4 linked regions of the Homo sapiens genome follow. The protein of the gene in region 2 purifies or fractionates together with the protein of the main gene of each other region. This does not show direct contact. Each region holds a gene or a part of one and is shown on either strand. Other genes may lie near its edges.

Evidence for each region.
Region 1: the proteins of KHK (region 2) and NPEPL1 fractionate together in Homo sapiens (co-fractionation; one large-scale study listed by BioGRID). This does not show direct contact.
Region 3: the proteins of KHK (region 2) and SULT1C4 fractionate together in Homo sapiens (co-fractionation; one large-scale study listed by BioGRID). This does not show direct contact.
Region 4: the proteins of KHK (region 2) and AGL fractionate together in Homo sapiens (co-fractionation; one large-scale study listed by BioGRID). This does not show direct contact.

The regions. Positions count from the first base shown.
Region 1 is NC_000020.11:58,701,856-58,706,723, reverse strand, and holds part of NPEPL1 (probable aminopeptidase NPEPL1), read right to left. Parts: intron 1,227-4,868; exon of another isoform or gene 1,155-1,226; intron 1-1,154. UniProt on the Homo sapiens protein: Probably catalyzes the removal of unsubstituted N-terminal amino acids from various peptides.
Region 2 is NC_000002.12:27,095,465-27,099,077, reverse strand, and holds part of KHK (ketohexokinase), read right to left. Parts: intron 2,350-3,613; coding exon 2,277-2,349; intron 1,576-2,276; coding exon 1,429-1,575; coding exon of another isoform or gene 1,015-1,428; exon of another isoform or gene 1,000-1,014; intron 1-999. UniProt on the Homo sapiens protein: Catalyzes the phosphorylation of the ketose sugar fructose to fructose-1-phosphate.
Region 3 is NC_000002.12:108,380,557-108,385,424, reverse strand, and holds part of SULT1C4 (sulfotransferase 1C4), read right to left. Parts: intron 3,714-4,868; exon of another isoform or gene 3,664-3,713; coding exon 3,538-3,663; intron 3,041-3,537; coding exon 2,943-3,040; intron 2,333-2,942; coding exon 2,206-2,332; intron 2,010-2,205; coding exon 1,915-2,009; intron 1-1,914. UniProt on the Homo sapiens protein: Sulfotransferase that utilizes 3'-phospho-5'-adenylyl sulfate (PAPS) as sulfonate donor to catalyze the sulfate conjugation of phenolic compounds.
Region 4 is NC_000001.11:99,848,040-99,853,543, reverse strand, and holds the start of AGL (glycogen debranching enzyme), read right to left. Parts: upstream 3,184-5,504; 5' UTR 3,129-3,183; exon of another isoform or gene 2,926-3,128; intron 2,924-2,925; exon of another isoform or gene 2,646-2,923; intron 2,570-2,645; 5' UTR 2,502-2,569; coding exon 2,420-2,501; intron 984-2,419; exon of another isoform or gene 875-983; coding exon of another isoform or gene 841-874; intron 1-840. UniProt on the Homo sapiens protein: Multifunctional enzyme acting as 1,4-alpha-D-glucan:1,4-alpha-D-glucan 4-alpha-D-glycosyltransferase and amylo-1,6-glucosidase in glycogen degradation.

The sequences.
Region 1 (4,868 bases), on a different chromosome or scaffold from region 2:
CGCCGCCTGGGGGTCTGTCTGCAGGGCCACTCTCTCCACTCCTCCGCACAGCGTGAGAAGGAAGCTGAGGTCCAGGGAGCCTCTGGGGCTTGCTGGAGGTCCCTGGCCAGCACCTCAGGGACCTGGGTGGGCTTGCGTGCTTCCTGCACCCATTGCAGATTCCTAGTGTGCTTATGGCAGGGAGGAAGCCTGAGGGGCTGCTGCCGCAATGCAAACCTGCCCTGGCCACCTGTCGCCCCCCAGAACAGGGCCTAGCTTCCTCTCCCTGGCACTTAGAGGGCTTTACCACCTAACGAGACTTAGGCTCAGCATTCTCTGCCCCTCATCACAACCTTGAATGATGGTGAGGGTTGATGTGAACTCTTCGCCAAAATCAGTCACATCCACCCCCACTGACACCACCAGCAGTGAGGACACCTGTCGCTCCTTCATGTCACTGCCAGGTCTATCGCCAGAAGAAGGGGCCACCTCTGCCCTCCTGCTAGTTCACACCTCCTGGTTAATAGTTCACACCTCCTGGTTAACCTGGGTCTAAAGAGGGGCCACCCTTCTCCTGCAGTGTCCACACTGTTTCCTATACGCTGGTTGACAGTGTTACACATTTTTACATTTTACAGGTTCCCAAATCAAATTCACAAGTTCATATTTTAAATTAACAGCAGGTCCTCAGAGGTAAAGGTTTGGGTATGAAATTTACTGAATCATTTTTGAACCCTTATCTTATTACACAAGCTTTGAATTTTAGTGCAAAGTATTTTTAGATGTAAATTGAGCTGCTTTTATAATTGAGTGAAAATGACCCATCTTGTACTACTGAAAATAAGCCATCTCTTCTGAGCTAATCTGTTTGAGAAAGCACAGGATTGTTTAAATGGAAAAACAGGGCCTCCGATCTGGAATCAAACCATGTGCAAAATGGGTCACACAGCAATGCCTGGAAACGGCTGCTCACTGTACACCATGTCTCCCCCGTCACAGCTGCCAGCTCCTTCCCAATTGCAGGTGGAGCCAGGACTGGGCTTGCAAATACAGCTCAACTGATTGATTGTGCAAAGTTTCACCAGCCCCCATATGTTGTTTCTGTTTTTATAGAAGAAACCATTTTCGCAGTGATTTAAGACGGTCTCTGCCTTTTTCACGGGGCTGACACTTACACCCCCTGTGCTGGAGTATCAGGCCACAGTCCCAAAGAGGTCCGGGAGCCACTGTATTCGTTTCCGTGCCCTCTGGGAAAATGAACCAATGCCAATTTCACGTTAGAATTTCCTTGCTGAAGCAGTAAAATTAATTTTTAAAACTCTCAACCCTTGGGTACAATACATTTTCCATATTCCGTGTGACTCATAATGTACTCCTGCTGTTGCTGACGGGCAGTGGTCGGTCAGAGCAGAAGCTCAGCTGTGATTGCTGGGGGAGTTCTGAGCTCCATGAGCCACTCTGGCCACGACACCATCTTTACTTGAAAGAAAAACTGACAGACAAATGGCATTTAATTGGATTTAGGTATCTGGCAGATATTTCCCAGAAAAGGAACAAACTGAGCCTCTTACTTCCAGAAACAGCTGACATTATTTATTGCCAATGGTATACATTTGAGCTTTTAAGCAAAAATCAGAATTTTGAAAAACTTTCTCCTATCACCATGACAACTTCCTCATAATGAGTTTTCTGATGAGATGGATGGTGATATTAAGTGATTTTTTGATACTATATAATGTAATGTGTCAAAAATTTGAATTTCTGCAGAACTCTGTGAACCAACATTTTTCAAGTGAACATTCATTTTTCCATGAAAAACCACATGTTCAAAGTGAGAGAGAACAGCGGATTTAACTGCCACAGAGCCCAAAAGTCTATTCATGAGGCTTCAGATTCCATGTTATAACCAGCCTTTAAGAAGCTACCACTTGTTGAGTTTTGGTGTAGTAGCAAAGAATGTTCATAGTTAGTTAGCTGAAAAAGGTACTAAAATCCTTTTCCCTGTTTCAACTATAAAATGCGTGAGGCCAGATTTTCTTGATACAGTTCAACTGAAACAACACATTTCCATAGACTACATCGGAAGCAGACGCAAGGTCCCTAGCTGTCTTCTATTAAGCCAGACACTGACAGGATTTGTGAAAATGTACAACAATGCTACTCTCTCAGTAAATTATTTTTTCATTTTGGAAGATGCTTATCTTCATAAAATTATTTATGATAACATGCAATGGATTTATATGTTATTTTTAATGAATTATACATGTTATAAATTTCTCACTTTTAATTTCCAGTAGAGTAAATATCAATAGACATTGTTATACAAAAAGCCTCTTTGGGGTCGGTACTTGTTAAGAGCGTAAAGGGGTCTCCAGTAATGCATTTGAGGCCTGCTAGTCCAGGCTGGTCTTGAGCTGCCCTTGAAATCTTTGAAAATGGAGCTGTGATTTTTTTTTTCTTGCAAAACTGGGAGCTGGGCTGGCTCCAGCCGGCTTGCTTTTTGAGGAGTGACCATTTCTGCACCATTTGCTCTACAGGCAGCCACTGGGGAGAATGCCTGCTGCGTTGCGTCTGCGTTTCACACCAGGCCGTTGGGGAGAGATTGTGAGCGCCTTCAGGTCAGGATTGGGGTCTTTGCATCAATGGCTGGAGCCTCAGCGCCCACTCCACACAGTAACAGCTCAGGAAAGGCCTGCTGGTTGATCCCAAATCCACGTAGAACGGTTCCAACTGCAGCGGGGAAGATGGGCTGGTTTAAAATAAAAAACCAGGTATTGTTTCACTGGTGCCAGAACACCCAGCTCTTCCTGGTATTATGGGGTCTGCAGACCAGGTGGACCCCGGGAATAGGCAGGGGCTATAGTCGCATTTTCAGAAGGTGATCTGGAGCCATGGAAAATGCCCTACTCTCTGGCAGTTCTACCAGCCACCCTCAGACCACAGCTTCCCTGAAGGCTGTGCAGCTGTGGCCTCTAGGGAAGGCCTGTGTGGTCAGGTTTTTCCTTTGTGTTAATTTCCAGGCCGGGAGCTGACTAACTGCACAGGTCTACCCACAGCCACATGAGATGAAGTCAGGTGCAACGATATTTTCCCTAAGTGACTAGAGTTAGTGCCACAAGCAAACGAATGAATTCCCAGGAAGCTCATCTTCTCACATTGGTCCACAACAAGCCGACATCAAAAACAAGCATCTGATCCAAGGAGAAGAGGGTCCACGACTCTACCAGCCAGAATGTAGCGGCTTCCAGGGTGACCGTGGGTATTGAGGGTGCGTGCGAGGGTGGGAGCAGCCAGTACCAGGTGCAGGCAGTAGGGGGTGCACTATCTGTGGCGAATTTAGGAATCATAACCGACTAGAAGTCAGTTTGCTTATTACCACCGTGTGCCGGTATCTCTGAACAAAGTCAGCAATAACATATTCCTCCTCCGAAAATCTGTTGTTGATTGAAGTTTAAAAAATTGCTGTGGCTACGGTTGCGTTTTAATCACACAAACAAAAGCTTCAAATTCGCATATCGTTGTTACTTATCCTGAAAGTAACATTACATGGACGTTAGCAATGACCCGACACAAAATCTACTACCCACATTCCTTCTGAGAATCGCTCTGACAGTCAGATCCTGTGGGCTGGCTCTGGGCACAGTCGGGGCCTCCAGGGCCCATGATTTCCTACCTCCCGGTGTCGAAACAGAGGACCCAAAATAAAACACGAGAGTGCGGGATGGTCAAAACGAAGACGCGGAACCTGCGTTCCTTCACTTCCCTCATTCCATGTGAACACTTGGAGTTACTGTGTCCAAAATGCTTTTGTTCTGCAGACATCTGAAAGCCACAAGAATCCACCCTGAAGAACTGAACACACAGTGGGTGTTGTGATTGCTGGAATTTACTGTGAAATGGGATTTTTAAGAATCTCTGCCAAATGATACCGTATTAAAGACTTTTCCTAAGTATCTGTGTATCTGTTGCCTCACGAGATTGGAGCTCTTCAAAATCAAAGTTAACAGATAGTATTCTTGGACCAACTATGAGTGAAGACAGCTGGCAACTCTGCCTACTGAACATACATTAGTAAAGAAGATCAATTTAAATGAAACCATTGTCAAACGTGTAGATGCTAAGACCCAAAGCCAGAAACAAACATTCATTCCACCATCTATTACCCCAAGAGACCCATAGGGAGGCATGTTTTTTCTATTAAAAAAAAACAAAAAACCCTTTTTATGATTAGTGTCATTTTCTGCTTAGTTCTAAACAGTTTTGTGGTTTAGAGGAGGGATGGGAACTGCTCATCCTCTCCAGGTATGAAATAAACTAGGCGTGCTAGAGAGCGCGGCGAGCTGCACCAGCGCCACCCTGAACAGCAGCTGACACTAGGGCTCAGTGTCAGGAAGGCAGCAGCAAGTGGTGGGGCCTACCGCAAACCAAACTGGAGAATGGGTGACACCAGGGGCAGGCCCACTGGCTGCAGGGGAATGCTGCCAGGCGGGAACAGAACGCCAGCACTGGCAGACCTTCTGAGTGCACAAAAGGCCGGAAATCCAGGCTTTGATGAGAATCCTTCCTGGTTTCAAATATTGGTAGCTAATTCAAATTTTAAAAATGCCAGGCCTCCGTGAGCCTTGCAGGCTGCTAGTTTGCAGTGTCTGCTGCGGATGCACTCCCTGCTCCTTCCAGACCTCCTGAGGTATGTACTTCCCAGTCTGCTCCCTCCCTGTCCTTCCCAGCCCAGGCCTGAGCACAGAGGCTGCTCACACGGTGTGTAGGATGAATGGATGGAGATGGTGCGGAGGAGGGCAGGGCTTGCTGGGGCGGGCAGACTCGGCCACGACGGGGGCTCCACAAGCACCTGTCCTCCTGGGATGGCAGGACAGAAAGCCGTACCACGG
Region 2 (3,613 bases):
TAGCATCTCACTGTCCCACGGGAACGTGGTTTTCTTTTTTCTTTATTTTTTGTGAAGATGGTCTCCCTGAGGCTGGTCTTGAACTCCTGGCCCCATATGATCTTCCTGCCTCAGCCTCCCAAAATTTCTGGGATTACAGGTGTGAGTCACTGCACCTGGCCAGAAGCATATTTTTATCGATGCTTATATATAATAGAATACAGCCTTGTAAATTGTAAAACAAAAGGCCTGGTCCGTTTGTTCTCTGATCAATGGATTGAAAACCCACAGAAAGCCTTGAGCGCCACCTTGGGGTGGAATCTACCACCGCCATGCTGGCTCCCTGGAGCAGTTTTGCTGGTTTTTCCCACAACTATGTCCTCTAGGTATGGTTTCTTCATCTGGAAAACAAAGAGGCTCCCTCAACACTACCTACACTTTAGAATCTCCAGAGAAAGTTTTGGTAAAAACAAAAAACAAAACACCGAAGCCTTGGCTCTACCCCTGCCAATCAAAAACAAGATGGTGGGGCTCAGGCACTGCAATCCTCCTGCCTCAGCCTCCTGAGTAGCTGGGACTATGGGTGCACACCACCATGCCAGGAATTTTTTTTTTTTTTTTTTGTATAGAGACAGGGTCTTGCAATCTTGAATGACTGGCTGAAGTGATCCTCCTGCATTGGCCTCCCAAGGTGCTGGGATTACAGGTATGAGTCACTGCTCTTGGCCTAATTTATTTTCATAGAGACAGGGGTCTTGCTATGTTGTCCAGGCTGGTCTTGGACTCCTGGCATCAAGCAATCCTCCTACCTCAGCTTCCCAAAGCTCTGGGATTACAAGTGTGAGCCACTACACTTGGCCTGCATTCATCTTTTTTAATATGCAGCCAAGGTTGAGGACAAGTCACAAGGTTGAGGACCTTGGCTGGATGGTCTCCAACCAACTTCTGCTATGATGCTGGGATTACTTCCCAAATTCCATTTACATCCAGCCTTTTCAAAAAGAGACTCATGCAAGTCTCCTTCCCACCCTTCCCTCACCCTAGCAGCCCCCACAACCTGCCAGACACCCCTGAGTTGGAAGAAACCTCAGAGAACAGTTGTGTGCCCTCATTCTGCAGAGGAAAAGACTGGGGAGCCCCAGAGAGGAGATGCTTCCACACAGGCTTGCCCTGTGGCTGTTTAAGCCCTACCCAAGCCCTCTGGGCATTCTTACACCTATGCACCCACCTGGGGTGGAGACATTCTACTCCTTGCTCACTGCTGAGGCCTGCACTGGAGCCCAAGGCTAGGGGTCTACTTCTTTGCTTTAACCCCCATCCCCCATCTTCAAACACCACCAAACCAGGAACCACTATTCCAATTGTGGTAGGCAGGATAAAAGGATTCTGGCTCCCTTTAAGAACCAAATTAGCTGGAAGTGGCAAAGAGAGGCTGAATGGGGCACCCACCACGTCTCCGTAGCCAAACAGCTGGAAGAGCTCCTCTCGTGGCTTCTCCACCTCCACGGACACCCGGATCTTCTGCTCTGGAGGCTGCCTGGTGTTGTGTGCGTCTATCCGCTGCAGCATCTTCACCTGCTCCGATGCGTTCCGGCCCTGGTACAGGACAGGGCAGCTCAGGACCGCTGGGCACTGCCTGGCCAATCTGCCTCATTCTTCCTGCCCCGCTGAAACTCTGGGTGAGGAGGGAGAGGGCCTCGGGGAGGCTGGGCTAGAACCCCATCCTAAATTACAACATTCAGAGCTGTCGTGGACTTTGAAGACCTTATCAACCAGCTACTCCATTCCACAGATGAGAAGACTAAAGAATAAAAGATACTGTGAAAGACCTACCATAGGTTAAATGATGGAGCTAGAACTCAGGACTTCTCAGGATTTCCTTCCACCCAGACTCCAAAACCTCTCTTGGAGTAAAGGCTCTAGTTCCCTTTATTTGGGAGCTGAGTCAGGCCCTGTCCTTCCTGCTTCCCCAGAGGTAATGGGTCAGGCCCTAAGCAGTCAGACATCCGCCAGAGGCAGAGTTGGAGGCAATGGGGCAGCCCGTAGCACAGAAAGCACAGGACTTTGCCTGGAGCCAGCTGTGCTTACGTTCTGCTGTGTGACCTTGAGTAAGTCATCTAATCTTTCTGGGCCTTAGTTTTCTCACCTGAAGACATAAGGAAAGATGGAGAGAGAATGAGGGGGTTGGGTTCATTTATCTCTAAGGTACTTCATGATTCAAAGAAACCAAGGAGGCAGAACATGTGGAGGAGGCTGGCAGGTTGAGCCCCTTGAAACACAGGTAAGGCAGGGCTTACCTCAATGTGGATCCACTTGAACTGGGTCAGATCAACCTTCTCAAAGTCTGTAGCAGACACATCTGGCAGGCTCCTAGGTCACAGGATGGAAAAGACAGAGAAGAAGGAGCATGATGGGGTCAGGCAGAGCCAGGATCTCTAACTGGCAGCTGTGGACCCTGTGCCTGCACTGCTGGCAGCATGACAGGAAGCTGGATCCACAGCACAGGATTCTCAGGCTCAGCTCCAGGGTTGTCCCTGTTACAGTCTGCTGGGGTGCCCTTTCCTGAGTTTGAGGTTGTGATTAAATTATCTCGGTAAACTGAACTGCAACACATGTCAACTGGCAAGGTCTGTGTGCCTTGGAGACTGCATCTCCCAGAATGCACTGAGAGCGCCAAGCCTACACTTCCCAGAATCCCTTGCAGCAGCACACGGCTCCCACAGGCAGAGCCCTGGGAAAGTATAAAGCCCGCGACCCCCTGCCTGGGCTGTCTGGTCCCCCTCACTTCTGGCGCCCCAGCGTTGGGGTTTACCTATGGCACCCCTGTCCTGCGTTTAATAGCTCCCCGTTGCAACCCTGAGGTCAAGGTAGCACTTGAGGAAGAGTTTGTGTTTGGCCGGTTTAGGAAAGGGGACTCCCGATAGAGGTCTGCCTTGACCCTCCTGAGCCAGAGACCTCAACTCAGCCAAAGTCCCCGCTCCACGTTCTGTAGCCGAGTCCTTCCACTTAACTATAGCTGTGTGATCTGCCCGGGCCTTTGGGAGGCAACTTCCACATTGATAAATGGGGCTGAAACCCCCAGCCCCCTTGCAGCCTGCTGCAGTTGCAGGTAATGTGTGTGAATGTGCCTGGACTGAGGCCAGTGGGCAAGAAACATTTCTCCTCAGAGCTCCTCTCCTGTAAATAGCTATGTTGTGTCCTTGATCAGGGTTACTACGGATTGTTGCTTAACAAGCATTTGACTAGGATTGCCCAATGCGAAGGTCACCTGTAGCACATATGCCTGCCTACTCACACTCACTGCACATATGAAGCCCAGGGATGGCTGCCCCTCCTCCAGGTCCGGCAGTCAGGCTGGGCCGTAGGAACAGCCTGAACCTGAGGGCTGCTGGGCTTGGGCCCTCTCAGCCATAACAGTACCTGGCACGTACTAGGTTCTTAGTACACTAAACCTCTAAAATCCTGCAGGAGGGAGTCTGCAAGGGATAAGAAGTGTCTAGGCCCATGGGGCCTCTCTTGAGTGGCCTGGGACCCTGAAGGGAGGGATAGCCCCTTCCCCCAGGTCAGCACCATGTTAGATGACCCTGATCTGCTGACCCCATGTTTCCTTTCCCCTCCTTCAGCAATGGCTGTG
Region 3 (4,868 bases), about 81 Mb from region 2:
TTGTGGGAACTACAGTGAGGGGACATTCAAGAACAAGATCACAGCAATATTTTTAAAAGTTTTAGGGACTCTGAGGTTAGATTACCTATTTCGATAAAGTTTCTTCCTGGCATGCATAATACGCTAGGGTCTACCTAAACAAAAGAGCCCCATTCCCAGCGACATATCCTTTCTCTGACATGGCTATGATACATGCTGTAGGGAAACATCATCTGCCTGGAGTCTTCGTATGGTGGCACAACACTTTTGTACCAAGTAAAAACAAAGTAAACACAAAGAAGGGAATTTTATACTGATAACCTCATAGGTTGTTCTGCTGGTTCTTTGATCATGCTTCTGAGAATCCTAGAGCTATAACAATTATTTTAAAAACCACATGAAAATAGTCTGTGTTTTCCACTCCTTTGATATTTTGTAGAACTCACTCATATCACAAGGCCCAGCAGTGATTGAACCTTAGAGAAGTGCATCTAAATGGTGATGTGTGCTTGAATCTCCTGGGAATTTTATAAAACTCCAGACTTAGCAGGCCTACAGCAGGCTCCAGTAGCTCATGCAACTAGTCTGTGAAGCACCTGTTGAGTATCAAGGCTTTCAACGACCAATTCAAGAACAGACACTGTAATTCTGTATAGATCTCTGTATTTAGTGGGGTCACAGAAAATAGCTGAGTAGATGATTATTTACAATAAACATCCACTGATATTATCTCATTTAGTCCTCAAATAAATCTTGAATGGGTAAATATTATTATCTTCATTTTTACATTTAAGAAAACTAATTTCCCAAGATGTTAAGTGTCTTTACCAAGAATTGACAGAACTTGATTTCAATAATTTTGAATCTAAATCATTAGTATTTTCCATTGCACCACTTCTTAAAGTTTCTTAAAGCTATTGGCTGGGCGTGGTGGCTCACGCCTGTAATCCCAGCACTTTGGGAGGCCGAGGCGGGCAGATCACGAGGTCAGGAGATTGAGACCTGGCTAACACGGTGAAACCCCGTCTCTAGTAAAAAATACAAAAAATTAGCCGGGCGTGCTGGCGGGTGCCTATAGTCCCAGCTACGTGGGAGGCTGAGGCAGGCGAATGGTGTGAACCCGGGAGGCGGAGCTTGCAGTGAGCCAGAGATCGCGCCACTGCACTCCAGCCTGGGTGACAGAGTGAGACTCCGTCTCAAAAAATAAATAAAATAAATAAATAAATAAATAAATAAATAAAGTATTATGTTCCTCAGTGCTAATAAAAAAACAAAAACTCTGGGCATGGTAGCTCATGCCTGTAATCCTAGCATTTTAGCAGGCTGAGGAGGGTGGAACACTTGGGATCAGGAGTTCAAAACCAGCCTGGCCAACATGGTGAAACCCGGTTTCTACTAAAAATACAAATAATTAGCTGGCATGGTGGCAGGCGACTGTAATCCCAACTACTCCGGAGGCTGAGGCAGGAGAATCTCTTGAACCCGGGAGGCGGAGCTTGCAGTGACTTGAGATCGCACCATTGCACTCTAGTCTGGGCGACAGAGTGAAACTCCTCCTCTGTCTCAAAAACAAAAACAAAAACAAAAAAAACCCAAAAACCAAAGAAACCAAAATGTGCTAGGATTTTTTTTCCTGCTAAACTGCATTTTAAAATAGACATGCAAGGGAGAAAATGACACCATCCATATTGTGTAATAACCTGCCTGTAAGGGAAATGTGCAGCATCCCTGGGAGCACCAGGAAGCTGCAGGTGAGACTGTGTGATACTTAAACTCATGATCAGCCATGTGCACTTTGACAAATGACAGCTGTAACCAATGAAGTGCAGCAATTTTCGGTTCCCCGCATCAATCTGAGTCCCTGATGGGGTCAATGCATTATGACTTAAATGTTTTATGGTCCAGTGGGTACACCTTAGATGGCACTGTGCTCACCTTCTTCATGTCCTCATAGAAGAGATAGAGAATACGGTGTTTGTCTTTGGCTTCCCACCATCCTTTCACATGTTCATGCCAGGAGCCCCAGCACACTGGAGGATGGGATGGAAAACAGGACAATGAGTCACAGAGGTCCTATTATACCACTGAAAGGAGAATTCCTGAAGAGAAGTGAGAATGTTCCATTAAAGAAGGCAGAGCCCCTGCTGGTCAAAAGAAAAGATTCTTTCCTTCTAGGGTGTTTGGAGATTTTGAGAAACGAAGGGAAACAAAGCTAAATTCTCTCACCTTTCCCAGCCAGAAAAGTCTCAAAATACTCTTCCCATGTTCCTGGAGCAGGAAGAGCTTTATTCATTCTTTGGAAATGGTAATAGGACACCATGTTGTCCTTGGGATTTCTTGCTACATAGATTATCTGGGAATGATGAGGGGAGGGGAAGGGAAGAAGCAAAAAAACAGGAATTTTTTTTTTTTTTTTTTGCTGTTACTGCCCAGGCAAGTCATGTTAGGGTAGATACATTTCATACAGTTCATTTTTTCTGAGGCTGCATTCTTGTCATCCTGGTTATGGGAGACTTTTTTTTTTTTTTTTTTTTTTTTTTTTTGAGATGGAGTCTTGCTCTGTCACCCAGGCTGGAGTGCAATGGCACTATCTTGGCTCACTGCAACCTCTGCCTCCTGTGTTCAAGCGAGTCTCCTGCCTCAGCCTCCTGAGTAGCTTGGATTACAGGCATGTGTCACCACGTCCTGTGAATTTTGTGTTTTTGGTAGAGATGGGGTTTCGCCGTGTTGGTCAGGCTGGTCTTGAACCCCTGACCTCAACTGATCCACCCATCTCAGTCTCCCAAAATGCTGTGATTACAGGCATGAGCCAACGTGCCTGGCTAGGATTCATATTAATTTGCATATTGATTATTGTGAAGAGGTATATATATATATATTTAACAAGTGAAGTGTTTTAAGAGGAAATGGAAGACTAAGGTTGTTTTAAGGAGTACAACTCTGAATTCCTTTTGCTTTTTTACCTTACAGTTTTTCTCTAGCAAGGATGGTGGCAGCAAGTGAAAGGGAAGATGTGTTTTCAGGATCCGTGGTGAGGGCATTGCATGAGCTTGTTCCAAACCTGCAAAACTGGTTTTCGATCAATTTCTACGATTTTTTTTTTATCTATTTGCTTCCAAGTCTTGCTGCTTCCATTATTACTACTACAATTCAAAGCATCTATAAGAACATTGTAACTGTAGATCTGGTGTGAGAGAATACGTCTAGCCTATGAATAGATGTTTTGACTAGAACAATTCCTAACCATAACAGTCATCCAAATAAATAAGAACCTAAAAAATTCAAACCCTTTCACCAGGATTATCTTACTTGAGCTTATTCTTTTGAAGTAAAATTAATTTCTAACTAGAGAAACAAAATTTAACTCACTTTTGTACAAACAGTAATTCCATTAGAAAATGTCTGGAGTATAACAATGGCCAGACACAGTTAAAAAAAGACAAAACCATGAAACTTACCAATAATTGTTTGAAAGCCTATAATTTCGAAAGGTGCAAAGACAGTAAAAATCCTAAGTGCATTTTAGGACTGTAGTGAAGTGTGGCTATTTATACTCACCAGATCCTAAGGATGGGATTTTCATTTCGAGGAAAGGAAATCGTTGATGAGTCGGTGCCCGTTTACTTTTCTCCACATCACCTTCATTTTGTATTAATTCCACTATCTCCTGAGTCCATGTTGTTCCTTACGTGCACGTAAAATGAAGATGAATAGACATCTAGTATAGTACATTCCTTAAAATATGATCAAATACTTGTTAGAACATCTATGTCTTTTGTTTTGTTTTGTTTTGTTTTGTTTTTTGAGACAGGGTCTTGCTCTGTATCAAGGCTGGAGTTCAATGGTGCAATCTTGGCTCACTGCCTCCTGGGTTCAAGCGATCCTCTCGCCTCAGCCTCCTGAGTAGCAGGGGTTACATGCATACACAATCACCCCTGGCTAATTTTTATACTTTTTGTAGAGACGGCATTTTACCATGTTGCCCAGGCTGATCTGGAACTCCTGAGCTCAAGTGATCTGCTTGCAAGTGATCTGCTCGCCTCGGCCTCCTAAAATGCTGGGATTATAGGTGTGAGCCACCATGCCTGGACCATCTATGTGAATTTAAAAGCTAGGTTTTAAATGGGATTCAGAAGATAGCATTCCTTATTTATATCTTATTATCATAATATGATTTTAAAAAAATACTCCAATTTTGAATGGACATTAGACTGATAAATATACATTTATTTTTTTCTGTCACAACTATTAATTTGGATTGTTATTATTGTTCTATTTATTTAGCTGTATTGTCCTTAGAAAGGACATTCTCCCCAAATTGTGATCTGCTATAGAGAAATGACTACATGATTTTCAAACTCTCTTTTTCCCAGTTGCATAGCGTAGGAGACACTTAGTATTTGTTGGCTGAATGAGTGAACCATTAGGGCTTGAACTTGATATTGACCATTAGCACTTAGTATTCAATTTTTCGCCTTTCTCTGTTTCCCCCATATCTCATGGGCTGAAAGGCTGTAAAAGGCCTTCCCTAAACTCCTTTGCCACTAAGATTCTGAAGGCTATTTAGATCCCTCCAGTGAGATGCATTAGCCTGAGTTTTGGAAGGCAGTGGGGAGATAGAAGTCATCCTTCCTGAGGTGGTGGCTGCTGATAGTAGCCCCAGCAGATAGAAATTTTGCAGAGACCATTCCACGTTCCATGGCCCAGTGCCCTAGACCCAACCACTGCCACTGTGGCCATAGGTAGAATGGTATCCCCCAGCTTCAGTCTGTCTGTGTCTTGCACTGATCCTGACTGATACAGTGATATTGTGCTATCAACATAATCTTCACCCTTTGATGAAGATCTGTTGCACCAGATGTTCTGGCAAAATCCAGGTTAGGAGGATG
Region 4 (5,504 bases), on a different chromosome or scaffold from region 2:
TTCATTATTCAGCACTTAATAGTTCTGTGCTCATTGTGTAATTGGAAATCAAAGGAAGCAGACAGTGAAAAATTAGGGAAAGACTTCACAAAGGAGGTGATATTCTAGCTGAAAGTTGAAACTTAGGCAACACATAGACTGACAGTAAATGAGATTTAACAGATATAAAGGAATCTGATGGGAGTACGGGTATAAGGACAGGCATGAGAAAACCTGCTGAGAAGGGAATTAACAGGAATGACTTGGGCAACTGTAAAGATCTATGACATTAATGATGGAGAATGAGATACAATCTTGGCTAAGGAAGGTGTAGTCTCATTACAGAATGTCTTAGAAGTCAGACAGAGGTATTTAAATTTGATTTTATACATACCACTTAATAACAAAGGGAAGAGACTGCATAAGATTATTCTGGCATCTATATTCAGCCATACAGAATAGACAGGCAATCAGAGATATTTGGAAAGAAACTGCAAGCTTAAAAAGAGACTGCAGGAAAAGAGAAGAAATCATCAAAGAATATAAGGTTTCTACCCTGGGAACTATAAAAATGGAGATGCCACGAAATAAACAGGGAAGCTGAGAAATAAAGGATCGAGAATGGGCAGGGGATATTTTTGGACATGCTAGATTTAAGCATATCCAAGTTGAGCTATCCTAATACTATTCTATTGCATAATATCAGGTTGAAGCCAAGGTCCAGGGTGGGAATACATGGAGTGATTCATATCAATGCCTTATATTTATTTAGGGCTTTATCACAAAAAATTCATGTATTATTAATTTTGAGTCTCAAAACCTAGAAAGGTAGAAGAACAGAAATTACCACTTTCATCTCACCAATAAATAAATTAATGCTCAGAATTGGGGCCATGCCCGGTGGCTTATGCTTGTAATCCCAGTACTTTCAGAGGCCAAAGAGGGAGGGTTGCTTGAGTCCAGGAGTTCAATATCAACCTGGGCAACATAGTGAGACCCAGTTTCTACAAAAAAAAAAAAAAAAAAAATTAGCGGGGCATAGTGATGTATGCCTGCAGTCCCAGCTACTTGGGAGGCTGAGGCAGGAGAACTGCTTGAGCCCAGGAAGTTGAGGCAGCACTGAGCCATGATCATGCCACAACACTCAGCTTGGGCAACAGAGTAAGACCCTGTCTCAGAAAAAGAGAAAAGGAAAAAAAAAAAAAAAAAAAAAGAAATGAATGCTCAGAATTAATGTAACTTGCCCCAAGTCAGCTTGTTAGCAGCAGAGCCAGGAGAATTCTGGCTCTAGATCTACCCGTCATCAAATGCTGAAAGCTTCCAAGAAGAAGAAAGCTCAAGGCTTTTCCTCCAAAAGTAGTCATTAGCACAGAGGCAACAGTTGAGGCCATGAGACTGTGTAACTAATTCTTTGAAGGAGAACAGAAAAAGAATTCCTAGCAGATACCCATAATTAATTAAAAAGTGAAAGGAAGAGAGCCTAGTAAGAGACACCAAGTTGACAAGAATATGCAACAGGGGAGGGGGAAAAAAAAATCAAAACCAGAAAAGTGCAGAGTCAGGAAAGCCAAAAATGGAGTAGGTACTCAGTGATTTTAAATGCCAAAGTTGGAAAAAGGCGCGGATTTGGCATGAAGATATCACATTGTATGTGTGAAATTTTTTTCAAAAATTTAATTCTTAAAACATTAGCGAAATTTAAAAATTCCTTTGAAATGTTTATGACTAGCAACATCCATTTGGTACATTAATAAGGGGGACTGGATTTTTCATATATTACACTTCTTCAATGTTGAAAAATTACAAAGGCTAAGAAAATAAAACATCTATTAACTAGCCTTGTAGAAAAGTAATTTGATCTTTTAAATACAGATCAACTATATATAGTTCAACATAACCAGATGAGTTATTGCACTTTTTATTTGCTAAGAAAATATTTTCAGCTTTTACCTACTCCACATTTGAGAAGTTTTTGATATACATAAACAATAGTTTACTATACTTTTTGCTGCAATCTATTTTGTCAATTCAAAGGTTCAACAAAGGAAAAGAGACAGTTATACAAAGGCAAAACTACATGCATACCCAAAGCAAAATTACATATGAAGTAATTTACCAAGTTTTAATAGTAAATGTTATTAGAAATAATATGGGCAATCTTCTGATCATATATTTAACTTCAATCTTAAGTGGGAATTAGTACGCAGAGAAAAGAGAACTATTTTATCCTTATCCTAACACGAGGGATATAAAATATTTTTAATTCAAATCAACATTAATTAGTGATATATGGAGAACACAGCACCATCTTTGCACAAATCAAGTTTTAGACCCTTGGAAATAATATTTATCTTAGAGCTTTAAAACATTTAACAGGACTGCCAATGAATTAAAAGTTTAAAAGACGCAAATGAGCAAATCAAAACAACTTGCTACTGACCTTGTTCAAGTCTGAAGAGGGTCTTTTCCAGTTTCTCCATTTCGTTCAGAAGTAAAATTCGAATCTGTTTACTGTGTCCCATTTTGGCTTCTAGAGGATTTGAAATCTTTCATAAGAATTAAAAGAACTCCACAGTCGAATGAGTTACCCCTATGAAACAAAAAGGAGTTAAAATATCGAAAATAACTATTGCCTTAAACTCTCCAGAGCTGACAGCGGCACTTACATGTTCGAAGTGTGTTTTATGCCTAGCAGAGCAATGAAAGAGAATGAATCTTATAACTATTAAGATTCGAGAAGGCAAATTAATAGTTGTTTCCTGCCTTTGAGCACAACGAATAAGACCGAAATAAAAATGCTGTATTACAGATTCTTACAATTAAAAAATTAAAAACCTAGACCATTCTCAGAGAAAAGCAATACACTTAGGAAAGCCTGAAGTCAGGGGGACATTCCCAGCCCCAAGCCACAGGGCTCTGGAGACTCCGAATGGCACTTCTGCTTACAAGAGATTAGTCTGCTCAAAGATAACAGGTGGGCAATCTCCCCATTCCCAAATTCGGGTCGCCAGCCACCAATGGGGAGATGAGAACAGAGGGAAGCAGTTGTTGCCTCTGGAATAGCTGCCGTAGACAGAAGATGTACAGAGCGAGCTATAGATAGAAAGAATGCGTTTCCCCGCGAGGCCAGCGGCATTCCTAGCACTTACGCCGAGGGAGTTATACGTGCGGCTTCTGGGGCACTGCAGGACCCGCGACTCTGGTGCTACGGTCGGGGGGAGGGGACGGGGAGAAACAGAAGGGGAAGGGCTGGCTGCCCAGCCTCGCACAGAAGCCGCAGCCCAAGGAGGGCCGGGCGCCGTGAAGGGCAAAGGGAGGGGCGGCGAGCGACCGGGGCAGCGCCGAGGCAGCTGGGTGAGAAGCAGGCAGAGTCTCAGCGACTTCGCCTCGCGCGGGTTCCTGGGCGCACCCGGTACCCAACCTGGCCGTGCGCGCACTCGCCCCAGGTGGGAGCGGACCGTACCTCTGGCCCACTTCCGGGAGGCTCGACCCGCCCGCCCCGACCGCTAGTCTCGCGAGAGCGTGGGCACCGCACCGTCTCAGTCGGCTCCGGGCCGGGGGACCTGGAGCCTGCTGCGGCTGAGGCCGGGAGCGGCGCTTTCTCCTTGCCCTGGGGAAGGTGCACCGGCCAAGGCGCGGCCTTCCTTTAACAGCCTGCGAGCTCACAGTTGCACATTAAAATCCCGCGGTACCGGCTGCGAGCTAGGTTGAGCTGCACAGTAGGATCTTTTGCTGGGAAGGGCTGAATGGTGAGGGGCAAACGACCTGGCTTCTGGTGTCTTTTGTGCCACCACGTGTTTTGTTTCTTTGTTTTGATAATTTTTACTTGGCCTAAGTTCTCAGAGTCCTGATTTCTAAGTGTCTAAAATAAGGGGCCTGGCTACAGCCTTGACATTCCAGCCAACACGTGTCCATCACTTCTAGTGCTAACAGACAGGACACATGTTCCTGAATGCAGACCCAGTAGGTAAGGTGTGGCCAGTCTGCAAACCATCGAGAGTGCAAACACCACTGATACTTAACGGTGTCCGGGTGTACCTCATGTACACTAGATAGACCCGGAGATCGTCTGAGATTAAGCTGCACTTATGTTAGGCCAGTAACTCAGAACTTTTTGCAGATGCTTAAGGAGATTTAATGCCTGAGGGTAAAGGAAAACCCATCTTCCAGGGCTTTTGGAGGGCTCCTAATGGTTATGAGAAAATGGACAGAAGATTTGGTTAACTAAGACTTGTGGCGTGTGGAGAAGATTCTTGCATTCTTTATTGTGGAATGACTGTAGGTCCAAAGAGGATATAAGTTAAAAAAAAAAACCCCATACTGAAGTATTTGTTTATTTCTGTAGATTTCTGAGAATGGCTAGTTGCAAATGGTCCGTAACTGACTTTGGGAACCCACAGCTCATTTTCTGGCCCCTACTATTTGCCAGGCACATAAGGTGCTGGGAATGCAGCAATAAAACAGTCACTGCCCTCAAGGAACTCCTACATTTTATTGGTGGGAGACAGATAAATTAAATAAATTATACAGGATATAATATATCCTATATAATAAGAAGGATATGTTATATCCTATATATAATAGGAAGGGGGAAGTGTGGAAGAGTAAGCAGAGAGAGGTTTGCATTTCTAAATATAACGTTCAGTAAAGTGATGCCAAACTGCGAGAAAGAAGAAGTCTAAGGTAGAGGGTTACATGTAGAGGTATAGGAAGTACAAAGGCCATGAGGCAGGAGCATACTTGGTGAACCGAAGAAGATCACCATAGCTGAGTGAAGAAGAGAGTGGTAAGAGATTAGGACAGACAGATGGGGCAGGAGAAGGGATCAGGAGCACAGACGGGTGACCAGATCTTTTAAGGCTTTGTAGGCCATTGCAAGGACTTGGGCTTTTAAACTTTGGAAAAAAAGCCATGGAGATTTTGAACAGAGGAGTGACATAATCTGATTGACCTTTTAAAAGGATCGCTCCGCAACTTTATGGGAAATAGTTGAATAAACTGTAGAGTGTAGCAAGGAAGGAAGCAAGGAGACCAGTTAGAAAGCTATTTTAGTTATTCAAGCAAGAGAAAGTGACTTGTGTGTGTTTTCTCTGTGTCGGGGGGTTGGGGGTGATGGGGGGGAGGTGGTATAGCAGGTGGTGTAGTTGCTGAATTCTGGACTATTTTGAAGATAGAACCTACAGGATTGGTGGAGAAAGGAGTCAAGGATGACTCCAAGGTTTTTGGCCTGAATGAGCAGAAAGCACTGTCCAATAGAAATATTAAGTGCCACATAGGTCATTTAAAATTTTCAAGTAGCCACATTAAAAAAACTTTTTTAAATACAAAAATTAGCCAGGCATGGTGGCACATGCCTGTAGTCCCAACTACTGTGGAGGCTGAGGCAGGAGAATCGCTTCAACCTGGGAGGTGGAAGTTGCAGTGAACCCAGATCATGTCACTGCACTTCAGCCTGGGTGACAGAGCGAGACTGTCTCAAAAAAAAAAAAAAAAAAAAAAGAAAAGAAAAGAAAGTTTTGAAAAAG